3 separate regions of the Homo sapiens genome follow, and all the other regions are linked to region 3. The links come from fine-mapping of genetic effects on gene expression. A gene starts in region 3. Each other region holds a variant in brackets. All regions are shown on one strand. Distances are from middle to middle.

Evidence for each region.
Region 1: its variant is fine-mapped to the expression of LYPD6B in testis (GTEx, PIP 0.95).
Region 2: its variant is fine-mapped to the expression of LYPD6B in testis (GTEx, PIP above 0.99).

Annotation. Positions count from the first base shown.
Region 1 is chr2:149,546,115-149,556,718 of GRCh38, reverse strand. No RefSeq gene overlaps it. Among named protein-coding and RNA genes, the nearest start is that of MMADHC-DT, 36 kb to the left of the region's middle. RefSeq lists a silencer at 1-264. The variant A/C (reference allele first, on the strand shown) is at 4,211.
Region 2 is chr2:149,139,410-149,150,013 of GRCh38, reverse strand. All of the region lies in intron 2 of LYPD6B (LY6/PLAUR domain containing 6B), which reads right to left. Among named protein-coding and RNA genes, the nearest start is that of LYPD6B, 110 kb to the right of the region's middle. The variant G/A (reference allele first, on the strand shown) is at 5,231.
Region 3 is chr2:149,034,503-149,045,106 of GRCh38, reverse strand. It overlaps LYPD6B (LY6/PLAUR domain containing 6B), which reads right to left and starts at 6,408. Exons shown (of 7, transcript NM_177964.5): 1 at 6,306-6,408. RefSeq lists enhancers at 5,916-5,975, 6,016-6,065, 7,279-7,338 and silencers at 6,146-6,305, 6,316-6,655.

The DNA.
Region 1 (10,604 bases), 510 kb before region 3:
CATCACATCCAAAACAAATAAATGGAGCACTCCTACTAGCTGTACATACACAGATAGTGTGTTAAGTAATCACAGAATTCACTGCTTTAGACTTAATCAGCCATTACATGCCCAGAGATGTTTTTTTTTGGAAAGTTTTTATTGGCATTTGAAATGGTTTCCTGTTGGCGAAGTGTGCAGTACCTCAAAACTCAACATGCAAACACTGTATCCAACAGAATTCCACCTCAATAGTTTAAAAACTTATATACATACACTGTGAGAGAACACAGGTCTTCAAAATATCAGTATTTGTAGTGACAGATACTGTGTGTTTAAAAAGCCAAGTTTTTAAAAGTCCTACATTAGTGCAAAATAGTTCCCTCCATAGAGATTTTGCTAGGTCTTCGCAAAAGTCAAACTGTTCACATCTATTGTCATGATTCCATTTACGGTCAGTAGGAGATTGGAAATTAACCATTTTTTCACATGCATTTACTGTTAAAATTTACAGAAGTACTGTATCTCATTTAATAGTCATAAAAACAGTATGGGATAAGTGATAGTATCTCCAGTTCCTGAGGAGGAAATCGAAACTCAGAAAAAAATAAGTAAATTATTTAAGCTCACAACATTTCTAAGTAATGGACTAGGAATCCAAACTCAAGTCTTTTTCATATGAAAGTTCCAATCTTTCATGCCCTACTGCTTCATGAAAATCACTGGTCAAGCTTCTCACTTTTGGAAATGGCTTTTGGATATTTTATTGAAGGGTGGGCCTGTTGATTATAAGGAAGTGATTGGAACATGATTTAAAGTGATTTTGATAAATGATTTTTTTAGGTATCCCACAGTCATAAATGAAAAGGCTTGATAATACAAGTCTTTATATGGCAGGTGGCTCAGAGTATGTTCTCCTACGTTTGAAAACTAAAAGTTCAAGAAGCCTTTGAATTCTGGATTTAGAAAAAGTGCACTAGTATATTTTTAGGCTAATAAAATTTAGACGAAATTAAAAATTTTAGTATTGCAATCCCCAGCATGATTCCTGAATAAAGTGGCTATTAACACCTGCTTATATGGTTTGGTGAAGCTCAAGAATATTGTAAATACTTTAACTTGAATTCTACTATTTATAAAGTGATTGTACGAATGAATTAGAAAGAAACATCCCAAAAGAAGTCTTAATGGGTATAATGGCTATGGTTGCCCTCAATAAAAAAGGTTACAAACATGTATGTGCATATGTCCAAACATACACAGATATGCACAGGTTTTTTTTAATTTTTGTTATTTTATCATATTATATTATTACAAATTATTTAATATTATTCTGGCACTTAAGAAATACTATGAGTTTTTTAACTGTTATAATTCTGTTTCTTTATTACATCTTAGTTATTATTCAAACTAGAAATATAAAATTTGGAAGCAGCAACTCTTGTTTACATTAGCTATTCTTTGCTACATTGAAAAAATATCTTTCAGGGGCCCTTAGCCTTTTTTATGCCATGGGCCCCTTTTCAGAATTATGTTTTTAAATGCATAAAATATATATAGTTACTAAAAACTCAATTATTTTGAAACACATTTGTCAAAACATTTTTAAAGTTTGTGACATATATACTTTTTATTAATGCATTAAATTACAAAATTGAACAGCAGTCTAATGCTGCTATAATTTTGAATTAGTGACAAGGAGAAATGACCTTATGAGATATCTGCAACAGCTGTAATATGATGGGGAAAAATCTGTGTTTTCTATTGGTGACAAGTCACAAGAACTGCCAATAACACTTGATTTGTTGCCTGTGTTCATAATGGAAAGGAATGCCAAAATAAAAATGTAATTTTCTTTCCAACCAAATTTTATTCTGTTCATGGACCCCCTGGAAGTCCATGGACCTCTTGTTAAGAAAGTAACTGTTTTCCACAAGTTTGTATCAGCAATGATTATTTACTATTATTGCATACTTTGGGGCTCCTATTATAATAATCCCTGTCATATTTAAGGTAGACTACACAGCTATATTGGCTTACACTGATATATATTTTGGCGTCCAACAGAATGGAAGTCTTACTTCTTAGTCATATTACAGAAAGGCAGGTGGCTCTCCTCCAGAAGGTAATTCGGGGACCCAGACTCCTTCCACCTTGTATCCGTATTAACTCCTAAGTCCTTATTGTTGTCTACATTCGACTGATAGGAGCAGAAAGAGTGTGAGGAAAAAAAAGTGGTGGTGGTGATGTAAGCCATTTCTGGGCCAAGCCAACTTAAAAGCCAAGACAAAATTTGGGTAGAAAATTAGCTTTTGCTCCTAGAATCATTTTCTTTTAAGGTTCTTATAAGATAGATTTGAGAGAGTGTTTTTCTCATATCATCCCTCACGTTCCTGAGATAAACCTTACTTGGTTTTGGTGGACTGGCTGCTTTTCTAAATTGTTGACCTGGGAAGAACAAATAAAAAACTCAGCAGCCTTTGCACTGTGAATGGGAGCAGCTAAACTGCAAGCATAGAAGCTGTGTAAAGTGTCCTTCTCTTTGACTCCTCAAAAGGTGATCTATCAGTTGCTGCTTCCTATTATTTAACATCCTAAATACCACTTTCATCAGGACTGCCCCTGCCACTGCCTTACTTCAGATGCTCATAAATTCTCTCCAGTACTACTTCTGTAATAGCCTACGGATGGAATGTTTTGTCTTCAGTTTTGTCCTCCCTCCCAAGGTCATTTTTCTACCACTATTCTCCAAACTTTTAAAACTTCACACCCCTGTGAGTGAAAACATTGAGCACACACCTCCATACCTGCACATTGATTTCTTTATAAGTATGCACATTTTTTTGCTATTATATATATATAATAAGATGTTTATACACATTAAAAATGTTTAAATGGACAGATTAAAAGATAAACGTAAATAGAAGTTCTAAGATGATCTTCCCCATTCAATGAATTATTTGACACATACATGTATCATCCTGTGTACTGTCAAGATAAAGGATGCTACAAGCATTGGAGGAGTCATTGAAGAATTACAGCTTACCTGAGAAGCTAGGAAGCACAGGTGGGTCTAGAAGGGGAGAGTCAGGACTAGAGAAACACAGCTTCAGCTTGAAGTAGAAATGCTGAGTTGGAGTTTGCAGGTAAGTCTCAGAAGCAGTAGAACTGACCACAAATAAGGACAGTGAAGTGGGAGCTCCTACAGAATTCTCAGAAAACTGCTGTGCGGGACCATCCCTGGGCACCCCAGGACCTTCTGCATATGATGCTTTTTGCTTCACCTCTACCTTCTAAATTTCCCCAAGTTCCTCTCCTCAGAAAACTCTAAAACATTACTCTACTAAGAAGGCAATTCCAAGAAATGTATTTCCCAGCCTCAGAAGATACTGGAGCTGATGGTGCCAGTTGACAACAACCCATTCAATCCAATATACTTTGGGGAACAGCCACTTCAGATTGGAGACTAATACTCTATTCTGGAATTCAGAGTAGTTTCCTCAAATTGCACCTGATTTTGTCTTTTTCAAAATCTTACAGCTTCCTTTTTCTTCCAGTGGTTTATAATCATTTTGGCCCTGAAAACTTTTGTTTACATACTTACGTAAGAGCATAAGCAAATAAAAATTCTTATATTAAGCATTGGTTGAGCAATGGGAGAGTGTCTGAAGCCTCTTCTATTTCTCCACAACCTGCACTGTTCCCCATAACACTACACACTGCTCCCTTAATAAGGGAACTTCCAGAACACCATGGAATGTGTCTAGAAATCACCGCCCTACAAAGCTCATGAACAGGCACTTCTCAAAAGGAGACATTCACACAACCAATAAAAAGATGAAAAAATGCTAATCATCACTAATCATTAAAGAAATGCAAATCAAAAGCACCATGAGATACTATGTCACACCAATCAGAATGGCTATTATTAAAAAGTTGAAAAATAACAGACGCTGGCAAGGTTGCAGAGAAAAGGGAACATTTATATATTGCTGGTAGGAATATAAATTAGCTTGGCCACTGTGGAAAGCAGTATGGAGATTTCCCAAAGAATGGAACACAGAACTACCATTCAACCCAGCAATCCCTCTATTGGATATATACTCAGAGGAAAATAGATCATGCTACCCAAAAGACACATGTACTCCTATGTTCACTTCAGTGCTATTCATAATAGTAAAAATATGAAATCAACCAAGATGCCCATCAATGCCCACCGATGGACTCGATA[A/C]AGAAAATGTGGTACACATACACCATAGAATCCTACTCAGCCATAAAAAAGAATGAAATCATGTCCTTTGCGCAACATGGATGCAGCTGGAGGCCATTATCCTAAGTGAACTAATGCAGGAAAAGAAAACTAAATACCACATGTTCTCACTTATAAGTAGGAGCTGAATATTAAATACACATGGACACAAAGATGGGAACAATAGAGGTGGGAGGGGAGAAAGGGGGATGGCTTGGAAGTCTGCCTGCCTACCGGGCACTATGCTCACTACCTTGGTGACAGGGTTAAGCCTCAGCGACACTATTTATTCATGTAACAAACCTGCACTTGTAACTCCCGGACCTACAATAAGAGCTGAAAAAAAAAAAAAAAAAAAAGAAAGCATGCAAATGAATAGCCAACAGTTACATGAAAAAAAAATGCTCAATATCACTAGTCACTGGGTAAATGCAAATGAAAACCACAATGGGATATCACTTCTCACCTGTTAGAACAGCATTTGTTAAAAAAAAAAAAAATGAAAGATAATAAGTGTTGGCAAGAATGTGGACAAAAGGGAGCCATTACACACTGTTGATGGAAATGTGAATTACTACAGCCATTGCAGAAAACAATATGGAATTTTCTCTAAAAATTAAAAGCAGAACTACCATAGGACCCAGCAATTCCACTTCTCAGTATGTAGTCAAAAGAATTGGAATCAATATGTTGAAGAGATATCTGTACCTCTATGTTCATTTCAGCATTATTTACAATGTACGAGATACAGAATTAACGTAAGTGTCCACCAACAAATAAACGAATACATATACATATTTGTTTTTTGCATATATATATATGTATATATATACATATGCAAAGGAATACTATTCAGCCTTAAAAATAAGGAAATTCTGTCATTTGCAAAAACATGGATAAACCTGGGGAACATTATTTTAAGTAAAATAAGTCCGACACAGAAAGATAAATACTACATAATCTCATTTATAAGTGGAGTCTAAAAAAGGTCAAACTTATAACGTACAGTAGAATGGTGATTCCCAGAGGCTACGGAAAGGGAATGGTTGAGGAGATGTTGGTCAAGGAATACAAAATTTCAGTTAGACAGTAGGAATAAGTTTAAGATATCAATTGTATATTAGGGTAGGTATAATTAATAAAATATATTATATTCTTGAAAATTACTAAAACAGTAAACTTTAAATGTTCTCATTACAAATAAAACTATGTGAGGTAATACATATGATAATTCACTTTATCCATTCCACAATGAAAACATCTATTAAAGGGCAGCCAAGATGGCCGAATAGGAAGAGCTCCGGTCTACAGATCCCAGCGTGAGTGATGCAGAAGACGGGTGATTTCTGCATTTCCATCTGAGGTACTGGGTTCATCTCACTAGGGAGTGCCAGACAGTGGGCACAGGACAGTGAGTGCAGCGCACCATGCGCAAGCCGAAGCAGGGCGAGGCATTACCTCACTCGGGAAGCAAAAGGGGTCAGGGAGTTCCCTTTCCTAGTCAAAGAAAGGGGTGACAGACGGCACCTGGAAAATCGGGTCACTCCCACCCTAATACTGTGCTTTTCCGATGGGCTTAAACAATGGCGCACCAGGAGATTATATCCCGCACATGGCCCAAAGGGTCCTACGCCCACGGAGTCTCCCTGATTGCTAGCACAGCAGTCTGAGATCAAACTGCAAGGTGGCAGCCAGGCTGGGGGAGGGGCGCCCACCATTGCCCAGGCTTGCTTAGGTAAACAAAGCAGCCGGGAAGCTCGAACTGGGTGGAGCCCACCACAGCTCAAGGAGGCCTGCCTGCCTCTGTAGGCTCCACCTCTGGGGGCAGGGCACAGACAAACAAAAAGACAGCAGTAACCTCTGCAGACTTAAATGACACTGTCTGACAGCTTTGAAGAGAGCAGTGGTTCTCCCAGCACGCAGCTGGAGATCTGAGAACAGGCAGACTGCCTCCTCAAGTGGGTCCCTGACCCCTGAGCAGCCTAACTGGGAGGCACACCCCAGTAGGGGCAGACTGACACCTCAAACAGCCGGGTACTCCTCTGAGACAAAACTTCCAGAGGAACAATCAGACAGCAGCATTCGCGGTTCATGAAAATCCACTGCTCTGCAGCCACTGCTGCTGATACCCAGGCAAACAGGGTCTGGAGTGGACCTCTAGCAAATTCCAACAGACCTGCAGCTGAGGGTCCTGTCTGTTAGAAGGAAAACTAACAAGCAGAAAGGACATCAACACCAAAAACCCATCTGTATATCACCATCACCAAAGACCAAAAGTAGATAAAACCACAAAGATGGGGAAAAAACAGAGCAGAACAACTGGAAACTCTAAAAAGTAGAGCACCTCTCCTCCTCCAAAAGAACGTAGTTCCTCACCAGCAATGGAACAAAGCTGGATGGAGAATGACTTTGACGAGTTGAGAGAAGAAGACTTCAGACGATCAAACTACTCCAAGCTACAGGAGGAAATTCAAACCAATGGCAAAGAAGTTAAAAACTTTGAAAAAAAATTAGATGAATGGATACCTAGAATAACCAATGGAGAGAAGTCCTTAAAGGAGCTGATGGAGCTGAAAGCCAAGGCTCGAGAACAACATGAAGAATGCAGAAGCCTCAGGAGCCGATGCGATCAACTGGAAGAAAGGGTATCAGTGATGGAAGATGAAATGAATGAAATGAAGCGAGAAGGGAAGTTTAGAGAAAAAAGAATAAAAAGAAATGAACAAAGCCTCCAAGAAATATGGGACTATGTGAAAAGACCAAATCTACATCTGATTGGTGTACCTGAAAGTGACGGGGAGAATGGAACCAAGTTGGAAAACACTCTGCAGGATATTATCCAGGAGAACTTCCCCAATCAAGCAAGGCAGGCCAACATTCAGATTCAGGAAATACAGAGAATGCCACAAAGGTACTCCTCGAGAAGAGCAACTCCAAGACACATAATTGTCAGATTCACCAAAGTTGAAATGAAGGAAAAAATGTTAAGGGCAGCCAGAGAGAAAGGTCGGGTTAACCACAAAGGGAAGCCCATCAGAATAACAGTGGATCTCTCGGCAGAAACTCTACAAGCCAGAAGAGAGTGGGGGCCAATATTCAACATTCTTAAAGAAAAGAATTGTCAACGCAGAATTTCATATCCAGCCAAACTAAGCTTCATAAGTGAAGGAGAAATAAAATACTTTACAGACAAGCAAATGCTGAGAGATTTTGTCACCACCAGGTCTGCCCTAAAAGAGCTCCTGAAGGAAGCACTAATATGGAAAGGAACAACCAGTACCAGCCACTACAAAATCATACCAAATTGTAAAGACCATCAAGGCTAGGAAGAAACTGCATCAACTAACGAGCAAAATAACCAGCTAACATCATAAGGACAGGACCAAATTCACACATAACAATATTAACTTTAAATGTAAATGGACTAAATGCTCCAACTAAAAGACACAGACTGGCAAATTGGATAAAGAGTCAAGACACATCAGTGTGCTGTATTCAGGAAACCCATCTCACGTGCAGAGACACACATAGGCTCAAAATAAAAGGATGAAGGAAGATCTACCAAGCAAATGGAAAACAAAAAAAGGCAGGGGTTGCAATCCTAGTCTCTGATAAAACAGACTTTAAACCAACAAAGATCAAAAGAGACAAACAAGGCCATTACATAATGGTAAAGGAATCAATTCAACAAGAAGAGCTAACTATTCTAAATATATATGCACCCAATACAGGAGCACCCAGATTCATAAAGCAAGTCCTGAGTGACCTACAAAGAGACTTAGACTCCCACACAATAATAATGGGAGACTTTAACACCCCACTGTCAACATTAGACAGATCAACAAGACAGAAAGTTAACAAGGATACCCACGAATTGAACTCAGCTCTGCACCAAGCGGACCTAATAGACATCTACAGAACTCTCCACCCCAAAACAACAGAATATACATTTTTTTCAGCACCACACCACACCTATTCCAAAATTGACCACATACTTGGAAGTAAAGCACTCCTCAGCAAATGTAAAAGAACAGAAATTATAGCAAACTGTCTCTCAGACCACAGTGCAATCAAACTAGAACTCAGGATTAAGAAACTCACTCAAAACCACTCAACTACATGGACACTGAACAACCTGCTCCTGAATGACTACTGGGTACATAACGAAAGGAAGGCAGAAATAAAGATGTTCTTTGAAACCAACGAGAACAAAGACACAACATACCAGAATCTCTGGGACACATTCAAAGCAGTGTGTAGAGGGAAATTTATGCCCACAAGAGAAAGCAGGAAAGATCCAAAATTGATACCCTAACAACACAATTAAAAGAACTAGAAAAGCAAGAGCAAACACATTCAAAAGCTAGCAGAAGGCAAGAAATAACTAAAATCAGAGCAGAACTGAAGGAAATAGAGACACAAAAAACCCTTCAAACAATTAATGAATCCAGGAGCTGGTTTTTTGAAAGGATCAACAAAATTGATAGACCACTAGCAAGACTAATAAAGAAAAAAAGAGAGAAGAATCAAATAGACGCAATAAAAAATGATAAAGGGGATATCACCACCGATCCCACAGAAATACAAACTACCATCAGAGAATACTACAAACACCTCTATGCAAATAAACTAGAAAATCTAGAAGAAATGGATGAATTCCTCAACACATACACTCTCCCAAGACTAAACCTGGAAGAAGTTGAATCTCTGAATAGACCAATAACAGGATCTGAAATTGTGGCAATAATCAATAGCTTACCAACCAAAAGAGTCCAGGGCCAGATGGATTCACAGCCGAATTCTACCAGAGGTACAAGGAGGAACTGGTACCATTCCTTCTGAAACTATTCCAATTAATAGAAAAAGAGGGAATCCTCCCTAACTCATTTTATGAGGCCAGCATCATCCTGATACCAAAGCCTGGCAGAGACACAACCAAAAAAGAGAATTTTAGACCAATAGCCTTGATGAACATTGATGCAAAAATCCTAAATAAAATACTGGCAAACCGAATCCAACAGCACATCAAAAAGCTTATCCACCATGATCAAGTGGGCTTCATCCCTGGGATGCAAGGCTGGTTCAATATATGCAAATCAATAAATGTAATCCAGCATATAAACAGAACCAAAGACAAAAACCACAAGATTATCTCAATAGATGCAGAAAAGGCCTTTGACAAAATTCAACAACCCTTCATGCTAAAAACTCTCAATCAATTAGGTATTGATGGGATGTATCTCAAAATAATAAGAGCTATCTATGACAAACCCACAGCCAATATCATACTGAATGGGCAAAAACTGGAAGCATTCCCTTTGAAAACCGGCACAAGACAGGAATGCCCTCTCTCACCACTCCTATTCAACATAGTGTGGGAAGTTCTGGCCAGGGCAATTAGGCAGGAGAAGGAAATAAAGGGTATTCAATTAGGAAAAGAGGAAGTCAAATTGTCCCTGTTTGCAGACGACATGATTGTATATCTAGAAAACCCCATTGTCTCAGCCCAAAATCTCCTTAAGCTGATAAGCAACTTCAGCAACGTCTCAGGATACAAAATCAATGTACAAAAATCACAAGCATTCTTATACACCAATAACAGACAGAGAGCCAAATCATGAGTGAACTCCCATTCACAATTGCTTCAAAGAGAATAAAATACTTAGGAATCCAACTTACAAGGGATGTGAAGGACCTCTTCAAGGAGAACTACAAACCACTGCTCAATGAAATAAAAGAGGATACAAACAAATGCAGGAACATTCCATGCTCATGGGTAGGAAGAATCAATATTGTGAAAATGGCCATACTGCCCAAGGTAATTTATAGATTCAATGCCATCCCCATCAAGCTACCAATGACTTTCTTCACTGAATTGGAAAAAACTACTTTAAAGTTCATATGGAACCAAAAAAGAGCCCGCATCACCAAGTCAATCCTAAGCCAAAAGAACAAAGCTGGAGGCATCAGGCTACCTGACTTCAAACTATACTACAAGGCTACAGTAACCAAAACAGCATGGTACTGGTACCAAAACAGAGATATAGATCAATGGAACAGAACAGAGCCCTCAGAAATAACGCTGCATATCTACAACTATCTGATCTTTGACAAACCTGAGAAAAACAAGAAATGGGGAAAGGATTCCCTATTTAATAATTGGTGCTGGGAAAACTGGCTAGCCATATGTAGAAAGCTGAAACTGGATCCCTTCCTTACACCTTATACAAAAATTAACTCAAGATGGATTAAAGACTTACATGTTAGACCTAAAACTATCAAAACCCTAGAAGAAAACCTAGGCATTACCATTCAGGACATAGGCATGGGCAAGGACTTCATGTCTAAAACACCAAAAGCAATGGCAACAAAAGCC
Region 2 (10,604 bases), 100 kb before region 3:
AGAGCCTTTTGATATAACAAAAGGTCATAGATAACATCCCAAACTGATAAGACAAGAAAGAGTGGTATACGCATGTTATTTAGAAATGCAGAGGTCAATACCAAAAGAAACAGCTACAACAATAAAGGAAGGTGGTCTCTACAGAGCAGGACTAAAGGATGTGGATCATAAGGCTTCTATTATATGCCCTTTAGAGGTTGCATGGAGATAAAGAAAGGGGAAGGATTGATTCATGGATACTTTCTGAGGATAGACGATATGAAGGAAAGTTCAAGATGTTCTTCTACAGTTAGAAGTAGGGGAGGTTATACACAGGGAATGAAGCAGGGTCGGGGAGGGTGAGAAAAGAATTTAATCAAGGAACACACGTTATGGTGCATGTGATACATTCTTGTTTCTTGTGCAGAAGTCTTCCCTGGCCGCTTGGAATATAAATTCCTCAAAGGCAGGTACTTCCTTTGTATCTTTTACAGGGATTTGCATTCAGTAGTAATTTTAAAAATCTAAGTTGAATGTTTGAAAAATCAGCTAAGATGAATAGGGCCAGCAATTACTATGCAGACAGGACATAGGGGTGTGCGTGTGTGTGTGTGTGTAGGATTTGAGTACAGGAGGAGACTAATTTATGCTCAATAAACTATGAATGAAAGAAAAATAGCATACAAAATCACACACAAAATTAACTCTTGGAAATCTTTCAAGAGAGCTTAGTTTCTTGGTTCGGGCTCTGTTTTTACCTGTAAATGAAGAAAATAACATGTGAAGACACATAAATGTTCAAGTTCTTTCTATTAGGTTGGTGCAAAAGTAATTGCAGTTTTGCCATTACTTTTAATGGTGAAAACTGCAATTATTTTTTCATCAACCTAATAGAACTCTGGTCATTCTTGCGTAACTCCAAATGCCTGGAATGTTCTTCCTCCCCGCACCCCTTGTCAATGTATCCTTCAGGTTTCAGGTTAGCTGCTTTCTTAGAGGTCTTTCCATGCCCCCTTCTGCTTCGGTTAGTTCCCTGGGTACTCTCCCTCGTACACAGCACTCACCACCTCTTCACAGCACTTAGCATCATTTCCAGGTATGTATTTGATTCAGTGTTGCAGCTACTGTTTGCTCAATAAGACTGCAGGCTGTAGAAGTCTGTAAAACACTTGTTCGTCCACTGTCCCATAATCCTACTCTTTGCAGTCAGCCAAGCACTCGTGTCACACCTGTGAGCCATTGCATCCAGCCTTCCTCAGCACTGCCCTCAACAAGAGGAGGCAAACTGGCAATCTAGAGGGCACAGAGAGGGGTTTAATTTGGCCAGCACAGTTTTTTAAATGGAAAAATTCACACTAAAGTCTATATTTCTAACTTCTACTGAAAAAGCAAAAGGGCTGGCCATTTCTGACTTACGTGATAACACCACACGTCTGGAAACTAGAGTGAGAAAAGAGACAGGCCAAAAATGTATGAGCCTGGACATCCCTCTAAGGAGATGGTTCAGAGCTACTATGAATTTGCAAAAGGTCCATGAGCCAAAAAGAGGTTAAGAGCCTTGAAACAGCCCCTCTTCCTTCCCCAGCATTTTATGATCTTCTAAGTGTTTTGCCCTCTGCTCCCCCAACATCTGTAGTTTGGCAAAGATCCGAATTTCACTCCTTTAATCTCTTGTCAGTCACTCCCTCCAGCCCTTAATCACTTTTATGACTTTCCTAAAAGCCTCCAATTTGTCCAAATCCAACTGTGAAGTCCTGCATTTCTTTTCCCTGGGAAGATGTAACACAGTTTAGAATTACTAAGCAAGGGTTCACCTAAAAGCTTTTAGAAGAAATATCCAAGATTTGACATGTTAAATCAATTTTCACATGCAGCTGCTCAATTCAGAAAGGAAAATGCAGGGCATTCCATAGAACAGGAGGCACTGGAATATTGCATAGAGATATTTCCTTTGCCTGATTGTGTACTGAATTGACAGGCAAATGGGTCAAGAGAAACTTGTTCCTACAGCCATCTTGAAATATCCTGAAAACAGAAGAAGAATGGAAACTACCCATAGCTCAGAACACATGACTACCATCATCTCTGACTATACACACACACACACACACACACACACACACACACAGGCCCATGTGCATAAATTTGCAATCAGCCAATCAGCCAAGCCTGCCCTACTCAATCTTGAAGCTTCTTATAGTCACACCAAAGCATCACACAAGGCTGGGCGCAGTGGCTCACACCTATAATCCCAGCACTTTGGGAGGCCAAGATGAGTGCATCACCTGTGGTCAGGAGTTCGAGACCAGCCTGGCAAACGTGGTGAAACCCTGTCTCTACTAAAAATACAAAAATTAGCCGGGCGTGGTGGCGCTCATCTGTAATCCCAGCTACTCCAGAGGCTGCAGGGGGAGAATCACTTGAACCTGGAAGGTAGAGGCTGCAGTGAACTGAAACTGTGCCACTGCACTCCAGCCTGTGTGACAGAGCAAGGCCCTATCTCAAAAACAAACAAACAAACAAACAAAAAACAAAAAAACAAACAAACCCTCAAACAAAGCATCACACAGTATGATCTGACTGGAGGTAGTCACAATACACAAATAAATCCTTATCAGATAAGAATTAATTTAAATTCCTTTCAAAGCTTTTCAAGAGGCAGAAAAGCCTGTCCTTCAGAGATACCCTCCTCTGGATTAATGACTTGGGTTACCCTCTTTATCACAAGTTAAAGGTAAATTAGTAGTTGGATTGATAATAGCTCTTCCTCCTCAAATTGCTTCACCATGGATTTCTGCTTCGTTTTTTGTTTTGTTTTTGTTTTCTTTTGAACACGTAGAGTTTGAGGCCACACAACTACCCCCAAGCCTCCTGGAAGCAGAGTAGACATCAGGGCCTTGGGCAAAGCAAGGCTCAAAGAGAATCTGAGTCAACGCTCTGGGAACCGCTGAGAAGCTGGGGTTGTGCTTCTCCGCCCTGGAGTCTTAGACTGTGTGGGAGGAGCCCTTCACCTGACCATCCCCAGCAATCCCACTGGAGGGATGAGGCCTCAGGAGGGCACCCGTATTCGTGATTCAATTCTAGACTTTCCATGTGTGCACCTCGACTTTCTTGTGCCCTGACAGTGTTGTGAAGAAATAAAAAATAATAAAATTTGTAGAAGATTCTACAGTGTTTGAAATATGTTCCGGCAGGTAAGCGCAAGGGTCTTCTAATCCCACAGCTACCAGCCCCTAAAGTCTCCAGTGCCTATTGTTTGTTACTATCGGAATTCTCCTGGAGTTGCTTTTCCTTCACACATCCTTGGGGTTGTTAATATTTGGGGTCTCTGAGGAGTGGCCCCCAATAGCCATAGTTCGGCCAAGACTGTCTAAACTGAGAGGGTCTTTAATATCTAGGGGTTCTCTTTACTGGGTCTTCCCAAATGACCCCTAACCTGATTATAATACTTATCTACATAAATGCATCCAAAGGCTCCCACTGCTCCTCAGACAAATGCAAACTCCTTTCACACAGCCTGGCGTGGCCCAGCCCTGCTGCCTACCTCCCATCCTGCCATTCTCCCTCATCCTCTGTTGGCTCTGGCCACACAGTCTTCTTTCTGAGGTTCGTATTTGCCATGCTCCATCCTTCCGCAGAGCCTCTGGATATGGCATCCCCCCCTACAGTGCCCCTTCCTCCCTTTCACTTGCTATTAACTCTTAGTCTTCCTGTCTATCTCAGTGCATGCACCACTCAGCCTGGAGAGCCTGGCCTCTCTCACCATGATTAACTCCACCTAATAAAGGTTCACAGAACAGTCCACTCTTCATTCCCCCATGAGCACGCCACGTCATTGCAATTTTGCACGTGCTTGTATAATTACATGATTAATATCTGTCTCTTGCACTGTAAGCTCTGCGAGGGTAGGACCATTTCTGTTTTTGTTCACTCATATTGTCATTGGCACAGAATAGAAGCTTAATGAATATCAGATGGACATGCAGATGGAGGCATGAACACACTATCTCAGCAGAACTGTCTTCTTCCCTGCCCTAGTTTGCACACCTTATCTTCTCCAGTTTTCACCTCCGGTCACATGTTTCCTCTGCCCAGAAGTTCCTTTCTCCCAACTGTTGCCTGTTGTTTCTTCAGAGGTCTGCTGCCTCCCCTACTAGGAGGAACAAACCTTGTGCACCTTCCCAGATTCCTTAAAGCATTGCTTTTATTTCTCTTTCTTTTGACTGGCACCCTCACTTTCACTGGGTCACCACTCTGTTTTGCATTGACCAGAATACCACACCACAGAGCTTCCTGAGAAGTCTCTGAGGGGTGGAGGATGCCAACTTCAAGTGAAGTAGTATTAGCTGCTCATAGGACAAAATTTTGCTGATGTTAAAAGGGAGAAGGGAGGGAGGCTGGCAGATCCATCCACCCCCTCTTTCTCTCTTCTATGGGCTGTTTCAACATGTGGCCCTTCCTTGTGACCCTCCTGCATTAGTTGCAGAAGAGACAGATGTGGTTCTTCAGGCTTGCCGGAAGGCATCAGTCAGCACAATAAAGCATCCCAGTGTGTTCACCGTATCTTCCCCTGTGTCTCACTTCTGTTTTCCCTCACTCTCGCACCCGGGCTTGTGTCTTCCAAGTAAACTGTTAGTATCTTAATCTTTTTCTCAGACTCTGCTCTCTTGAGCATCCAGGCAAATATCCTCTAATATCCCAGGTCCCCTCAAGAGCGCAACTGCATGTATCGTCCAAGCACACAATCCAGTAGTTTGAGAAGGGTTTCTCTCTAAATATGCTGTGAATGGATGAAGCTATTGGAAATTTGACCTGGACTAACAGAAGGAAACTCATAATCCCTCTGCTTGAATCTGCTCTAGTCAGAACCCACCATCAGTGGTACTGATTTTAATTCCAAGAAGCCTAATTTAAAACTGTGTTTCTCAACATTTTCAAATGACGGACCACTTAAAGAATCTGAGCGAGGCTATGAACCCCTCTTCCCAGAAAAAATATGCACATATGAATCTGTACACTCTCAGTTTAGGGGGTTCTCAGGACCTCTGAAGCCCCATCCGTAGATTTCATAGTAAGGAACACAATCAATGGGCAGTAACAAGTAGAGCAGTTGACACCACGTTTCATAGGGAACAGTGGAAAGAACAAATTCAATACAAATCAGGGGTGGAAGATGTGAAATTTGCTGTATTTGAAGGCACGTCAAGTGGAAAAGCCATTAAATGTTTGTTCCTATAGTATCTCCTCTTCT[G/A]GGGGTGACTTCTCTGATTTCCCCAGTAAGATTTTGCTGTCCTAGCCTCATGAGTATGCTGTGATCCTTACTTACAAAATACTACTAGTCTTGGTCAGGCACCATGGCTCATGCTTGTAATCCCAGCACTTTGGGAGGCTGAGGTGGGCGGATGACTTGAGCCCAGGAGTTCAAAACCAGTAGGGCCAACATGGTGAAACCTTGTCTGTACTAAAAATACAAAAATTAGCCAGGCGTGGTGGCGGGTGCCTGTAATCCCAGCTATTTGGGAGGCTAAGGCAGGAGACTCGCTTGAACCTGGGAGGTGGAAAGTACAGTGAGCCAAGATCACGCCACTGCATTCCAGCCTGGGTGACAGGGGGAGACTCTGTCTCGAAAACAAACAAACAAACAAAAACAAACAAAAAAAACTAGTCTTTCATCTAAAGGGCCAGATAGAGGCTCTACTTTGGACAGAAATGCCAAAAAAGTCAGTGCCCAAAGACCCCACCCCCATTCTTGTTTTCTTTTTTCTTCATACAAATCATTCTGAGCTTGTAGGCCATACAGAAACTGGCAGGCTGGCTTCAGGCCATAGTTTGCCATCCTCTGCATTAAGCTGAAGCCACTGATGAACCAGACCATCTCCACCATCATACTATAAGCCCCTCTGAGGCAGAAGTCATCATTTATTTTGCCCTGGGACCCCAGTTCTAACACAATGATAAGTACACAGTCAAAGCTGAATATATGTATGTTAGATGAAAGAATCCACCACAAAGACCTCCCTTATCATGCAGTTTGAACTGATCTCATCTCATCTCTCAGGACTTGCTGACCACACTTACCCAATTATGCTGAGTGCCGTGGCTGTCCACTGGCTTGAGAGACTTAGAAAAACCACAGAATCCTTTCTTTGCCAACTTTCAGGTTGTTTTTTCAGTTTCTGATGTGAAAAGCATAAAATAACCACTCACTACTTATTTCCATAGCTAGCCTTTTAAAAGTAATATTAAAAGTGGGGATGATGCCAAGAAATCTGTTAAATATTCTTGTGCAGCTGTTCACATCTTAGCATTTAATTAGTTATAATTGCAATTTAAAAACAATTAAACTCTGTGGGGGTTATTTACTGCATCTCGTGATGATTCTGTCTTTATGCTCCTCAGAAGAGACAATTGGAAGGAGAGATCTGCTGAGATTGATAAGACAAGTTATTGTCACCCATAGCTAATTTCCCTTGTCATTGTTTTAGGGTGATGGTGGTGTGATTTTTTTTTTTTTTTTTTTTGCGTCACATGTTGCAATGTTAGAACACAAATTTCTAAACTTTTCAAACGGTATAGTAAAAACATGGCGTAGTCTTGTAGTTTTCTCTCACATCCTCAGCATAGGAAGACCAAGAAGAACTGCCATTTCTCACCGAAGGTCCCTGCCCAGATCATAAACTCATTGTCCTAAAAAAAAAAAGTTGGAACCAAAATTTACATACAACGAGCCAAGAAGTTGAGATGGAAAAACAAAGGGGAATTAGAGTGTGTTAATGGTCTCATCTTATACAAATAGAAAGCTGCCAATTAAGTTAAACTTTGCTGGGAAATAAATGGATTTATGCATATTTTTGAAAGTGTAGTGCATACATGTAATATCATAGATGGGATAGTGGGAGAGATAATGGACAAAAGGAAAAGAACTAAGGAAATCTGAATGATTATGCATGTTAACTAATAATAATGTATCATTATTGCCTCATTAATTGTAAAAAATGTGCCAAACTGATGTAAGATGTGAATAATAGCAGAAACTGAGTGTGGGGTATATGTGAACTCTTTGTACTATCTTTTCAACTTCTCCATATATCTATAACTATTCTAAAGTAAAAGTTTATTAATTTCTAAAACGAAGGTTACTCCCTAAAGAATACAATTAAGATACGTAGCTTGTAATCAGGTGAAGAAGGAAAAAGTCGATTAAAAAAATACTTAGTTCAAGAGGGCAGGAAACCGGGCGTAGTGGCATGCACTTGTAGTCCCAGCTGCTCACGGGGCTAAGATGGAAGGATCACTTGAGACCAGGAGTTCAAGGCCAGCCTGGGCAAAATAGTGAGACCCTGTCTCTAAAATTAAAACTTTTTTTTTTAAAGACAGGAGATAAGAAAAAGTTGTCTATGGGGGGAGAGGTTGATAAGCATTATATACAACACACACAAAAGAAAGTGGCAAAAACAAAGTTTGCATTTTAAGGATGCGGTATCTCCTGTCCTGTTCCCCTAATTTAATACTTGGCTGGCACTCTCCAATTCCCTTCTCACTCAACACTTCTTTCACTCGTATCCCAGGCCCCTTATCAGTGATCTGCAATTCAATCAACCAATTAACAAATATTAACTGAGCCCCTGGTGTAAGACCCTCAATAAATGCTACAGGACCCCATTCCTGGAAAAAGCAAGATGGGTGCTCCATGGGTCTTCTTCGGGTGCACCTCCCAAGCCCAGTGCAGGGCTGGCTGCACTCAGCCAGCGCTCAATACACATTTGTCCAGATTGTCTCCCCACGATGGGTCTGCATCCTGGCTGGGTGATGAAGTCACCCGGGGAGCTTTTAATAAACGCCATTGCCCAGAGCCACGCCAACCAAGATTCGAATTTAACTGGTCTTAAGTGAAGTTGGCCAGAACACCAGTATTTTTTAAAAGCTGAGCAGAAGTTTCTAATATGCAGCATGGGCAGGGTTGCATATACAGGAATCCATAAGGTAAATGATAGCAGACCAAGTCTCGATGTTATCAGTTAACTATTATAACCGTACAGGTGTGAGAATTCCAAATTAGTACTATTTTCTCTCCAGCAGCTACTAACTCACTGTGCAGACAAGACTCGAGTTATGCAGCTGCAAACCAGGGAACACCAAAGACTGCAAGCAAGCCACCAGAAGCTTGAAAGAGGAGAAGAAAGATTTCTCTACAGATCTTAGAGGAAGCATGGCCTTGCTGACACCTTGATTTCAGACTTCTAACCTCCAGGACTATGAGACAATAAATTTCTGTTGTTCTGAGCCATCCGGCTTGTATTACTTTGTTATAGTTGCCCTGGGAAATTAAAATTAATACAGCTTCCAATTAGGTACAGGGGGTAAAAGAAGAATAAGAGAAAACTTGATAATCCAACAGGAGGTTGGAATTTTTTTAATAGTAAATAAAAAGAAAAAAAGTAAGAAAGATTTCATATAACAAATACAAAATAACAAGGCAGAAAAAATTCAATATATCAGTAATTCAGAAACTATGGACCCATTAAATTCACTTGGAATGCAAAATGTTGAATGGCTTTACAAATCTGATTCATTGCTATGTAATTCCTAACGACATTTCCAGAATAACAGAACAAAATGATAGAAAATATACAAAAAATACAGAAGATGAAAAGACACACCAAACAACTTTAAATCAGGCTACCTCCCTGATTTCTCTCCCCCCTGTACTCCACGCGGATGCACCAAGTACAATTGTGGCCCTGCCTCAGGACTTTGCACGCATGGTTCCCATTTCCTGGAATGCTCTGCCCCAGACAGTCACATGGCTTACTCCCTGCATTCACTCAGCTCTCTGCCCAAACGTCACTTAGTCACAAAAGCCTGCCCTGACCAGGTTATCTAAAGAATATTCTACCCTATCAATCTCTATTTTCTTACCTGGTTTTAGTGCTTTTTTCATCACTTACCACCACCTGATGATTTTTGTTGGCCTCTCACATTAGAAGGTAAGTTCCATGAGAACAGGGACTTTATTTACTGTTATCTATCAGTACCTATAGCACACAGTAGGCACCAAATAAATATGTGCCTCTATCATAAAATTTGCAGATGGGAAATGTAAACATTGTTTTATGTTTTGGCCAAATCCCTTCTAAAGTGTTTATTTTTGCAAACTGCAGCTTCCTCTCTCCTTTTATGCCTAACGAACGATCAAAGATGGGACAAATGGAGAAAAGTTTTCTCTCTGGAGAAAGAAAATTCAAGATGGAGAGAAAGAATTTATGCCACGATGCTGGATTTTGTGGAAATTCACCAGGCATTTATTTCCTTGGTGACCCAATCATAAAAGTGAGGGAAAACCTTCTTTCAGCCAGTGTGGGGAATACAACACCAATGCTACAAAAGTACTGGCATTCTAAATGCAAGGATAAGCTTAAAGAGATTATTTGAATCTAAGAGTGTGGGAGGGACATTGGCTCTCACGGTCCAGCAGGTGTGAGTCGGATCTAGCTAACTCCCTGAGGATCAAGGATTCAATTGCCATGCTGAACGGGCACCCCTGATTCCTACAAGTTCAACTCTTTATGAGACTTCTCCCATTTACCTTCTCTGGACCTCGCTTAGCACTACCCTATGTGAGGGAATCATGGGGACAGAAGGAAGCCTCCTCGCCCTGCCACTTCCCAGCAGCCCTGCCCTGAAGGCACTCTCCCCACACTTTGGTTCTTTAAGGGAGCCCCACATCATGCAAAGCGCTGAACCACAAGCTCGCTCGTTGCCTTGGCATCACCAGCACTGACCAAGAAAAGCTGGTGTTAGGTGTAGGCTACAAGCCAAACACTCAGGGTCCCCAGCCCTTTCCCACCACAGCCTGTCACCCAGGAAATATAGAACAATCTGTCCAATCCCTCCCACATGCACATGGTCCTCTGGGAGCAGGTTATATACGTTTGTGAATTTATACACAGCCTGGTGTCAGGCCAATAAATTACTTCTGGAATTCAGTTCCAGTAAAGAAAAAAAAATCCACCCCCACACAACAACAAAAAAGGAAGGAAGCAAGAAATTTTAAAAAGAGGTGAGTCTTCTTTTCTTCCCACCCATGGGCTTTTCCAGTCCCTAGAAAGTTCTTCTTATAGTCTAACCTAATTCCTTCTTGAACAAATGTAAGACATATGTCTCTAATTTTCATGGGAAATGGAGAGGAGTTCACAACTATGTCCATATTACCTATCTTCAAATACTTAAGGGCCTCTCTCTGCCTTCTCTTCTCTAAGATAAACAAGTTCTCTTCTTTAAGTCTGTAATAATCATCCAATTTATTTCATGGCCCCCTTGATCTTGAAACACGGCAAATTTGAATAAGATATTTGTTTTAAAGTAGTTATGTTGCTGTAAGTTCTGCTCCTCTAATACTTAAACTTTCCCCATTATGATACCTCTTTGCTTGTTATATTTTAAACAGTGCCTTGCTGTTTAAATGAGGAATGAGAAAAGATTTGCCTTGCTAGCATCTGTCACCGCCGACCCTAGGTTGCCTCTGAAGTGTATGCTTACAGCCTTTACCTAAAATTATTAAGTGCTCTGGTGACATTATTACAAGAGGGGGCAGGAAGAGTGTCAACCTAATGAAGCGGCAGATT
Region 3 (10,604 bases):
TATCTATTTATAAAATTAAATTTGTGTTAAAAACCTTCCAACAAAGAAAACTCTAGGACCAAATGGTTTCACTAGAGAATTCTACCAAACACTGAAGGAATAAATAATACCAATCTACCTAGTCCCCTCCAAAAATACATTACAACCAAGTGGAATTTATCCAGAGAATGTAAGTCTGGTTCAACATTTGAAAATCAATCAGTGCAATTCACCATATTAAATATTAAGAAAACTCATATGGTTCTGTCAGTTGATGGTAAAAAAAGCATTCAATAAAATTCAAAATCCACCCATAATTTTAAAAAACACTGTCAATAAACTAGGAGTACAAAGGAAATTTCTTAACATCATATTGTATCTACAAGAAACCTCAACTAACATCATACTTAACAGTGAAAGATTTATTGCTGCCTGCTCCATGATAAGAAACAAAGTAAGGATGTTCTCTCTTATCACTGCTATTCAACATTGTACTGCAATTCTTAGCCAGTGCAATAAGTTGGAGGAAGAGAAGGAGGGAGGGAGGAAAGAAAGACACGGCATTTAGGTTAGAAAGGAAAAATAAAACTGTCTCTATTCACAGATAATATGATTGTCTATGTAGAAAATTCCAAAGAATCTACAAAGGACCCACCTAAAACAGATGAGTAACTTTAGCAAGGCCACAGAATACAATACCAACACACAAAAATAAATTCTATTTCTATATACCAGCAACAACAGCAATCCCCAAAATGAAATACCTAAGTATAAATCTAACAAAATATGTGCAAGATCTATATCCTGAAAACTACAGAGTGCTGATGGAAGAAATCAAAGACTTAAATAAATGGATGGTTATACCCTGCTCATGAACTAGAAAACTCAATAATGTAAAGATGTCAATTCTTCCTAAATTAATCTGTAGATTTAATACAATTCCATTCAAAATCCTAGGAGGATTTTTTTGTAGATATTGACAAACTAATTCTAGAATTCATATGGAAAGGCAAAAGAACTAAAAGAGTCATAGCAATTTTGAAAAAGAATAAAGTTGGAGGGCCTACACTATGTGCTTCCAAAATGTATTCTAAAGCCACAATAATCAAGATACTGTAGTGTTGGCATGAAGTAAGCATACAGATCAATGGAACTGAATTGAGAGTCTAGTAATAAACCCTTACATTTTAGCTAATTGATTAGTGACAAAAGCTCTAAGACAATTCAAGGGAAGAAAGGACAGTCATTTCAACAAATGGTGCTGGAACATTTGGACTCCCACATACCAAAAAGAAAATACCTTTGACTCATACTTTATCCCTTATACAAAAATTAAAGTAAAATGGATCATAGACCTAAGTGTAAAACATAAAACATGAAACTTCTAGAAGAAAATAGAAATGTTCAAGACTTTTTGGTTAGTTAGAGAATTCCTCAATACAACAATAAAAGTTGGATGTATTAAAAAATCGATAAACTGGTTTATCAAAATTAAAACTTTTGCTCTGAGAAGACATTGTTAAGGGAATAAAAATGACAAGGCAGTCGCTGGGAGAAGTAATTTACAAATTACATTTCTGACACAAGACTTATATCCAAATTATTGTACTGAACAACAAGAAAACTCAATAAAAGCAAGTAGTTAAAATTACCTCTGCAAAACACTTCAACACTTTAAAATTTTATTTGCGTTTCTGTTTTTTCCAGGCAGTAATGGGTCCAAACATAACCTCTCATCAATTTGTATCTGTAGCATATTATTTAACTTTGGAATTGGACTTTTGATCTGTTAACTTTTGGTGTACTTTATATTGACCCAAAAGAAGTTAGTTTTCTTTGAATTCAGGAGATAAATTTCATACAAGTCCTTAGTAAAGAGACCACTTTTTCTATCAAATAAAATTGATTCTTTAAACACCAAAAGAAAGTACAAGTTCCTGAGGCATCAAAATTTATTTTCTCTTCTTTTAAATAATGAACCCTGAGCATGAATCACCACATTTGTAACCACCGTATTTCTTCCTTTCCCTGCTACCAAAACTAAACAATTCTGGAACATAATGATGAAAGAAATGACCCTTATTTTCCCTTTGCTCATGTTTCTACATTTATTTCTCATGACCTGGTACCATGTTTTTGTAAGTCATTATAAATCATATTTAGGAACAATGTGAGTTATAACAAACAATCAAAGAAATTCTGCATGAAAGAAATCCTATAAAATTGAGTTATTTAACATTTAACTGTCTTTTTCCACATGAACACCTGTCCTTTTTGCCCAAAACCCTACCTGCTTAGACCATATAGCTCTGCTGGAAACAAGAGAGAATAAGCCATGATTTCCAGCACTATATCCAGTTTGTTTCTAATGACTGCACTCTTGTCTGGATCTATTTTATTTTTTATTTCTGTACTTCTCACCGCCTGACTTATTAGACAAAACATAAATAAATGTCTCCATCTAGTAGACTGTAAGCTCCAATCCCCAGCACCTAGAACAGTGTCTGGCACACAGTAGATGCTCAATAAATATTTGTGAAATAAATGACTGCCCAAGGCATTTCTCTCTACCTCATTCCCTCACATTCTTCCAGTGATCCTGGCCAGCCCATGGCAGTATTGTTGCTGAAAACAGGAAAATATGCTGCCCTCCACTTCTGCTTTCTTCCAGCATTAGTGATCATGTCTTTTTGCCAATTTCTTTGCTAACTAGATATTGAGGATAGAGGATCATGAGAAGCGGCATCCTTGGTTGCCCAATCTGATTCCAAAAGTCCAGCACCAATGTCCACCAATGTCTACCATATAAAGCAGAAACAAAGTGCAGCACTCACTTCACATTTCAGATGAAAATAGGATACATGATTTCAAAGCAGTTCATGGTAGAGGCTGGTTTCCTACTAAATGCAACTACCAAAGTTATCGCTCTTTGGACTTAGCATCAGGAGAATTGTTTACTAGTCCAGGATCTACCATTAATTGCATCTTCACCAAGTCCCAGCCTGTTAGTTTGAAGACAGTTAACAATACTGAAACAAAGTCATGATTTAGAGCAACTAAGTGTTCTCAAGAGAGGGACAGGGAGTTTCCGGGGAAGGTAGGCAGTGGGTGCCCAGCAAAATCATATGTGAGGCTTTTCAAACTACACAGGGTTTGAAACTCTTCTGAAACTCCTCCACCCCAATCCACCCCTTGAGAATTGCCACCATAGAGTGAGCCACTGTTGCTATTACTATTGGGAGTATGGAAAACTCAGAGAAGCTTTTCCAGGTTTCAGGTGTAAGCTTGTTGAGGAATTGGACCAAGATTTACTATGCTTCTTAGTGACATCCATGGAATCTAATACAGGGTAGTCCTGTCTTTACTTACTTTTCCAACCTCAGCTCCTTTCCTCCCCTCAGCCACACCCTAGGCATCTCCCATGGTATTGGACTTCTGATTACCAATCTGTGCCAGACCTTGCATCACCTGTCCCCACCTCTGGGAGACACAGTTTGTTGCCTACCTAACAGCCCAACAGGCAGTCTCACTTTCCTCCTTGCTAACAGAATTCTGATTGTGTTCAGACATGGAGCATGGATGCTCAGGTAGGTGAGCCCCTCCTACAGCTCCGGAAAATAGCTTGGGCAAAACAATCATGGGCCCCTCTTCTCCTTTGCCAATGACTGGTTTCAGGGTAAGCGTTAGACCACTTTGGCCAGTGACGCGGGGAACTTCGGGGAAAATTTGTCCTTTATTATCTAGAGAAAGATTAAGCAGCAAGCCCCGGCCTTCTTTTTTCTGCTTTGGATGTTGTCATGTGAAGGCATGATGGAGCTCTAGTCACCCTGGAAAAAGAAGATAATTTTCTAGAAGCCACCAAAGAGCTGTGGCCACTTCGAACGACCTACCTTCAGATGTTCTAAGCAAGAAAGTAGAGTAACCTAAACATATTACAACAAAAAGTGTCCCTCTGGAATCCTACCACATGGCCTAGAATTTTTCTCCTAGACCAGCCCTTCTCATTTTCTTTTTTTTTTTTTTTTTTTTGAGACGGAGTCTTGCTCTGCTGCCCAGGCTGGAGCTCATTTTCAATTCAAAGCTCAACTACAGTTTCTTTGGGGAGTCTTCACTACGTCCCCAGACAGATGAGTCCTAGACGATGTTATCCTCATATCTGTCTTTCCAACTAGACTGTGAGCTTCTCAAAAGCAAGCATTTTCGCCCTTGGCAGAGGCCCTGGCATATGTTGAGCATTTATTATATGTCGAATGAATGAATAAACAAAAAACAATGAATGAAAAGATGGACACACAGGATGCCCTCCATGCATTAGATGAAGACTTGACTGATGGAATACGGCCCTCAGGCTGTCTACATTCTACTGCAGACTACCTTTAGGCGCTGGTGAGCAAAGACAGAGATAGTAAAATGAACATGTCCTGTTTTGTCAGACTTCTCATTGGGAATTGCGCCCCCTACCGACATGCCTTGCAGCAGAGGTGGGCCAGTCTATCAATCACAGTCGGTCATGTGCCCATTCCTGTTGTGTAAACCTCTCCCTGTCTGCTGAGATGGCTTGGTTCTGTTTTGGTCCAGTATGTCAATAAGATTGCTATAAGGGGCCGGGTGCAGTGGCTCACTCCTATAATCCCAGCACTTTGGGAGGCCAAGACGGGCAGATCACTTGAGGTTAGGAGTTCGAGACCAGCCTGGCCAACATGGTGAAACCTCATCTCCACTAAAAATACAAAAATTAGTCCCACGTGGTGGCCGGCGCCTGTAACTCCAGCTACTTGGGAGGCTGAGGCAGGATAATCGCTTGGACCTGGGAGGTGGAGGTTGCATGCAGTGAGCCGAGATCACACCACTGCACTCCAGCCTGGGTGACAGAGTGAGAGTCTGTCTCAAAAGAAAAAAAAAAAAAGAGAGAGAGAGAGAGAGACAGAGAGAGACTGCTATACGGATAGAGAAGATGGGATTCTCTCTCTCCCTCTTTGTCTCTGTCTCTCTCTCTGAAGGAGCAGATAAGCCTGAAGGTGCAAGTCCTATTTATCGTCCATACTAAGAACCAGTAAACACAGAGAGAAAAACAGCTAAGATATACAAGAGAGAGAACTAGCCCTGGAACCTTGTATGAGCCTCTGGAACTAGCTATAGCTTTAAACTGAAACCCTCGACCTTTTCATTTATGTGACCCAATCAATTTCTACATAGTATAAGGCAATTTTCAAGTGACCAAAACCCAACCCAAAGAAAACAATTCTGACAAATACGATGGGTAATGATGAGGGCAGTCTGACAACACCCCCTCCATCTGCAGGGCCCGTGCACTGGCAGCCCTAATCTTGGCCTCTGTGATGCTGTCAGCAAGTAAGGCATCCTGGAGGAAGCCTAACCATGAACAAGTCAGGGTGGGAAAGAATGCCCCCACCCCACAACACACACATCACCACATCAACACAAAGGGGGAAAAATCAAGCAGTATGCTATGTACTCCATGAACATCATATAACCTAAGTCTGTTGTAATGATTATAATATTAATAATACCTATTTTACTTTAAGGGAACTGAGGCTCAGAGCAGTTCAGTAACTTGCCCAAGGTCACACAGCTAGTTACTGGAATTTAAATAGCATTCTAGACTTTTCCCACTCTCTGATCCCCTGGCCTTGGGAGGTGGACAGCACCCCTCCACCCACCAGCTCCCCCCAAACGCCACAGGGCATACAGACCTGAAGCCTCACAACCCAAGCCCCCTGGAGTCAGAGCAGCCTCCAGACCCGGCTTTTGAGAAGCCCCAGGTAACTAACCAATGTGTAAGGTAGGTTATTCAACAACAAAAGTAAAGAGCCGGGGCAAGGGAAGCGGCGGCACCCAAGCTGGTCGCGCGTGAAGCGCTGCAGGGGGAAACACTGGAGCTGGCACGCTCGCTCTTGGCCCCACGATCGGCCTTGAACCCCAGCCCCAGCTCCGCGCTCTCTCCAGCAGTTTGACCCCCAGTATCTCCTCTCCCCTCGGCTCTGCCGAAGTCACTGGCCCCGCAGGGCTCTGGACGATTAGAGACCCACACCGCTCCAGCCTTGCCCCGGCCCCCTGCTCCCGTCCCGTCCAGATGTTGGCAGCTGCTCGCCTCGAGGCAGCGACCAGACCCCGACCCCGCCACTGCGCCGCGGCCCCGCGGCCCCGCGGCCCCGCGGCCCCGCGAGCTCCTGGCTGCCCCAGCGCGCCCAGAAGGGGCGCAGCGCATCTCCCGCCGCAGTCGCGCGGCCCCGCACTCGCTCCGGCGCGGGGTGAGCCGTCCCGAACCCACCACCGCCCCCGCCTGCTGCGCTGGCCCAGCTCACCTCGCCGCCCGCGCCCACCGAGCCTCTCGGCGCCCTCACCCGGCTCCCGGCCCAGGCTCCCAGCGCACCCGCCTGGGGCCGGCGTTGGCTGCTACCGCGCGGGGCGGGGCGCGGCTCCTCCCTGCCCTGAACCACCTGGGGCGCGGGAGGGGGCCGGGCCGGGACAGGTGAGCCTCGCCCGCGAGGGAGCAGCCCCGGGCCCGGCTCCGCTGGGAAACCGCAGGGCTCCACCACGAGGTTGAAAGGAGGCCCAGGCGGGCGGCAGTGTGGTAGTGGCCAGCGCTGGGGAGGCGGCAAGGAGCCTGTTCCCACCCAGCCAGCCCGGCTCAGGAAGTGAAAGAAGCACGGGATTCGGACCCCACCCAGCTTAAAGAGGGGAGGGTCCAACCCCTTTCTTCCTAGAAAACCAATGTAGAAACGAGGAGTGCAGACCCTCGGGAGTGAAAATGATTGGGCCAAGGGTGCAGGTGAGTTAGTTCAGGATTGGAAGAACTCTGAAAGACCTTTTTTGACCATTCCATCCAACCCCGTCCCCACCTTGCCCACCCGTCAAGTGATTCCCTCCCCCTTTTTAAATAATGACATTAAGCTATAAATAAGATAATTTCATATAGTGACGTCCTCCCCACCCCTGGACGGTAAGCCCCAGGAGAGGCAGGAACCTTACCCGTCCACTACTGAATCACCAGAGCTTTGAAAACTCAGGGCATTTAATACCTGATGAACAGACTAGGTGGCGCCCAGTCTTTTGCGTCCAGCGTTAGACTGGTCCCCTCGGCCCAGAGCTGCTCCAGCATCATTCCAAGCTTACTAGGGAGAATCCAGAGGCAAGCTGTTAGATTCCGGGCCACCTGTCCTCTCTCTACTGCTTACTCCCCACCCACTGCCAGCCAGGCAGCTGGGATGTGGGAGGTCTACACTCCCAGGGCACCTTATAGTGGTCAAGCAAATCTTTAACTTCTGAAGATGCCACAGACAGGAGAACTCTGAAATAAAACACTGTCCGGCCAGCCTTGCACTGTGGAAACACAGCTCAGAGTATGGGCCACTGACCCAAGATTCCATGGCTGGTAGCAAAGCTGATCCTGGGTCTGCATTTCTAAAGACAGTTGGCTGGTCTGGGGCCTTTGAGGGGCTGCTGGTTATGCCTGCAGTGGGGAAACCTGGGTACAGAACTTCTGCAGAAGTGGGGTCTGGGTTTGGTCCTCTGCTGAGACTTCTAATCTGTCTTTCCAGACCTCTGAGGTCAAGCATCTCCTGAGCCAGCTTGCATTTATTGAGGCCCCTGACAACCGCAAAAACAAAAACAATGGTATTTTTAGGTGTTCCATTTAACAAATGGCCTTCACTCACACACACACACACACACACACACACACACACACACACACACGAGGTAATGTGTCATGCTGCTCCTCACATGTTAATTTCAAGACTCGTTAAAAAAATCCATTCCGTGAAAAAATTCATTTCACTGCAGAAAGCACTGTACAACTTTAAAGTTGTATGGAGAACATTCCTTCTTATGACTATTTCAGTACACTTCCGTGACTATATATTAAACCTCCAAGGCCAAAATGGGAGGATCTCTATTAAGGTGAGGTCAGGGCCAAGAAGACTGCTCCACCCCTCCACTGACAACAAGCCCAACACTCTTAAGGTCTAGACACCCCACCCCTTCAGTGGGTTCTGCACATATGGGTATTTCAGATCTGGTGTTACCTGGCTGGCTACGTCACACTGGGCAAGGCCAACCTAGAAAAGGTTATATGGGATGCCCCACCTAGGTGTGCCCTACCTCAGTTGCTACTCCCTCTATGGTGGCAGGGAATCTGGTGTCCCAGGGTGGAGCTGTGGTGGGGCCTGCACTTTGGGACAGCCACTTGCACCAGCAGGTAGGGCTGAGCAAAGGAGCACCTCTGGGTCTCACTCACATGAAATGGACCTAGACCTTTTTTTGTGTTGGTTTCAGTCAGTAGAGCATGTGATCCCCTGTGATTTAAAATCCTGCTGCTGTGCGTGTGATCTTGGCTGGGCCAGCCTGCTAAGTGATGCCACCCAGACAGGCCTGAGAATCATCAGGAGGGTACAGGTTCTGCCCCAGTGCTTGCTTGCTTGCACGTGATCTCTCCCTCCCCACCCCACTCTCTCTCCTGTGCTTGCTGAGCAGCCTTGGGCATGTTCCTCAATTGTGTGTTTTTCCTACTTGGAAAATGTGCAGCCATGAAATCAGACAAGATCTCTGTTTGAAGTTTTTTGCTTAAAAGGGGTATCTGAAATAAGAAGTTCTGATACTGTTGTGTGGCTAAGTTAAATAATCCACGTAAAGTGCTTGAGCACAGCGCCAGCACAAAGCACCTGCTCAGTGAACAGTAGCTCTGCCTAGCAGTGCAAAGAGAGCCAGCCCACTTCTGATCAACATTAAAATGCTGGAAATAGGGACAAAACCACTGATAGACTTCATAAGACTCTAGAATGAATTAATTAATCTTTACAAATAACTATTTATTGCTATTCTCTACTGGTCTCTAGGAGAATGATATTTGAACTAGAAAATCTTCAGTTTCTGCTCTATCTCTAGTTCTCTGATAATATAATGAAATATAAATTATCCAAAGAAGCAACAATCCAAAAAACTTCTGAGCCTTAGGATATATTTACCTTCCTAATTTTTCCTGTCTTTACTTAGGACTCAACATGTATATTAATAATGTATATCTAGCCGGGCGTGGTGACGGGCACCTGTAATCCCAGTTACTTGGGAGGCTGAGGCAGGAGAATTGCTTGAACCCAGGAGGCAGAGGTTGCAGTGAGCCGAGATCCTGCCATTGCACTCCAGCCTGGACCACAACAGTGAAACTCCATCTCAAAAAAAATAAAATAAAATAAAAAATACTGTATATCATTTTCTGAGGACATTTTTCAATGAGACAATGTGTGTAGCATTCCTGGCACATAGTAGTGTAGCAGGACGAGTCGCAGAGAAAACTCCTCAGACACCAGATTAAAGAAGGAAGAGTTTTTTTTATTTGGCCAGGAGCATCGGCAGACTCATGTCTTAAGAGCCGAGCTCCCCGAAAAAGAAATTCCTGGCCCTTTTAAGGGCTTACAACTCTAAGGGGTCTACATGAAAAAGTCATAATAGATCAAGTAAGCGTGAGGAACGTAACTGGGGGCTACATACATCAGCTAACAGAACAAAAAGTTTTACAGTGCTTTCTCATACAACATCTGGAATTTACAGATAACACCAGTAGTTTTGGTCAGGGGTTAATATTATTATTATTTTAACCACCAGGGCCAGGTGGTGGTGCCAAGGTCGTCTAGCTATTTATCTTACTTCTGTTTCTTTCCAACTTTTTGCTTTCTCCCTTTTCTCCTGTCTTATAAACTAGGGAAAAGGGGAGGTTGGGGAGAAACTGGGAAGGACAACAGGAGAAGTGGTGGCCTCATACCATAGTAGCTGCTTACTTAATTATGACTAATATAAGGAGGTATAGGGAAGTGGCCAGAAATATTAGGAGCAGAAAGTGCCATGAATTCAAGTAGGCAAAACTGATAACCACTTTATCAGGCAGCCCAGATTTTAAGTTCACACTGGCTCTGGAATCAGACTGTTTGAGTTCAAATTCAGCCACAACTTACAATGCATGTTAATCTCTCTATGCCTCAGTGTCCTCACCTATACAATGAGACAACAATATGAGAATTTCATAGAAAAGCTGAGACACAGAAATAGCATAATAACTGACCTTTAGTGAGCAGCTGCTTCATGCCTGGCTCAAGTGAATGCTTACATTCTCTTTCAAGGGTTAACCTTAAAGTAGGAATTCTTAATCAAAAGCCACAGACCCTGCAACTGAATTTGAAGTTCTGTGTCTGTATACGTTTTTACTAAACAGAACATCCACAGCTGTTGTAAGACTTGCAAAGCCATTTGGGTCTCAGGAATAGTTAGGAGTCACTGCCTTCCAGACATAGCCGGGACAGGAGTTTTGGAGTTGGAAGATCTGTTAGAGACTGTGCAGACCACCATTCCCAAACATCCTTGAAGGGGAGGATCACTTGGATGCCTGCTCATGACAGAGTTCACTCCTAAACATTCTCATTCGGGAGAGCAGAGTGGCTTTTGAATGAGCACTCCGGGGGCTACTCACCACAGGCAAGCCTGGGAAACTGATCCCACCCAACCTTCTCATTTCACGGGTCAGGAAACAGGCCCATCTCACAGGTCAGGAAACAGGCCCAGAGATAAGGACAGCTCGAAACAGTTCCCACCCCACGTCAGTCAAGGGCCTC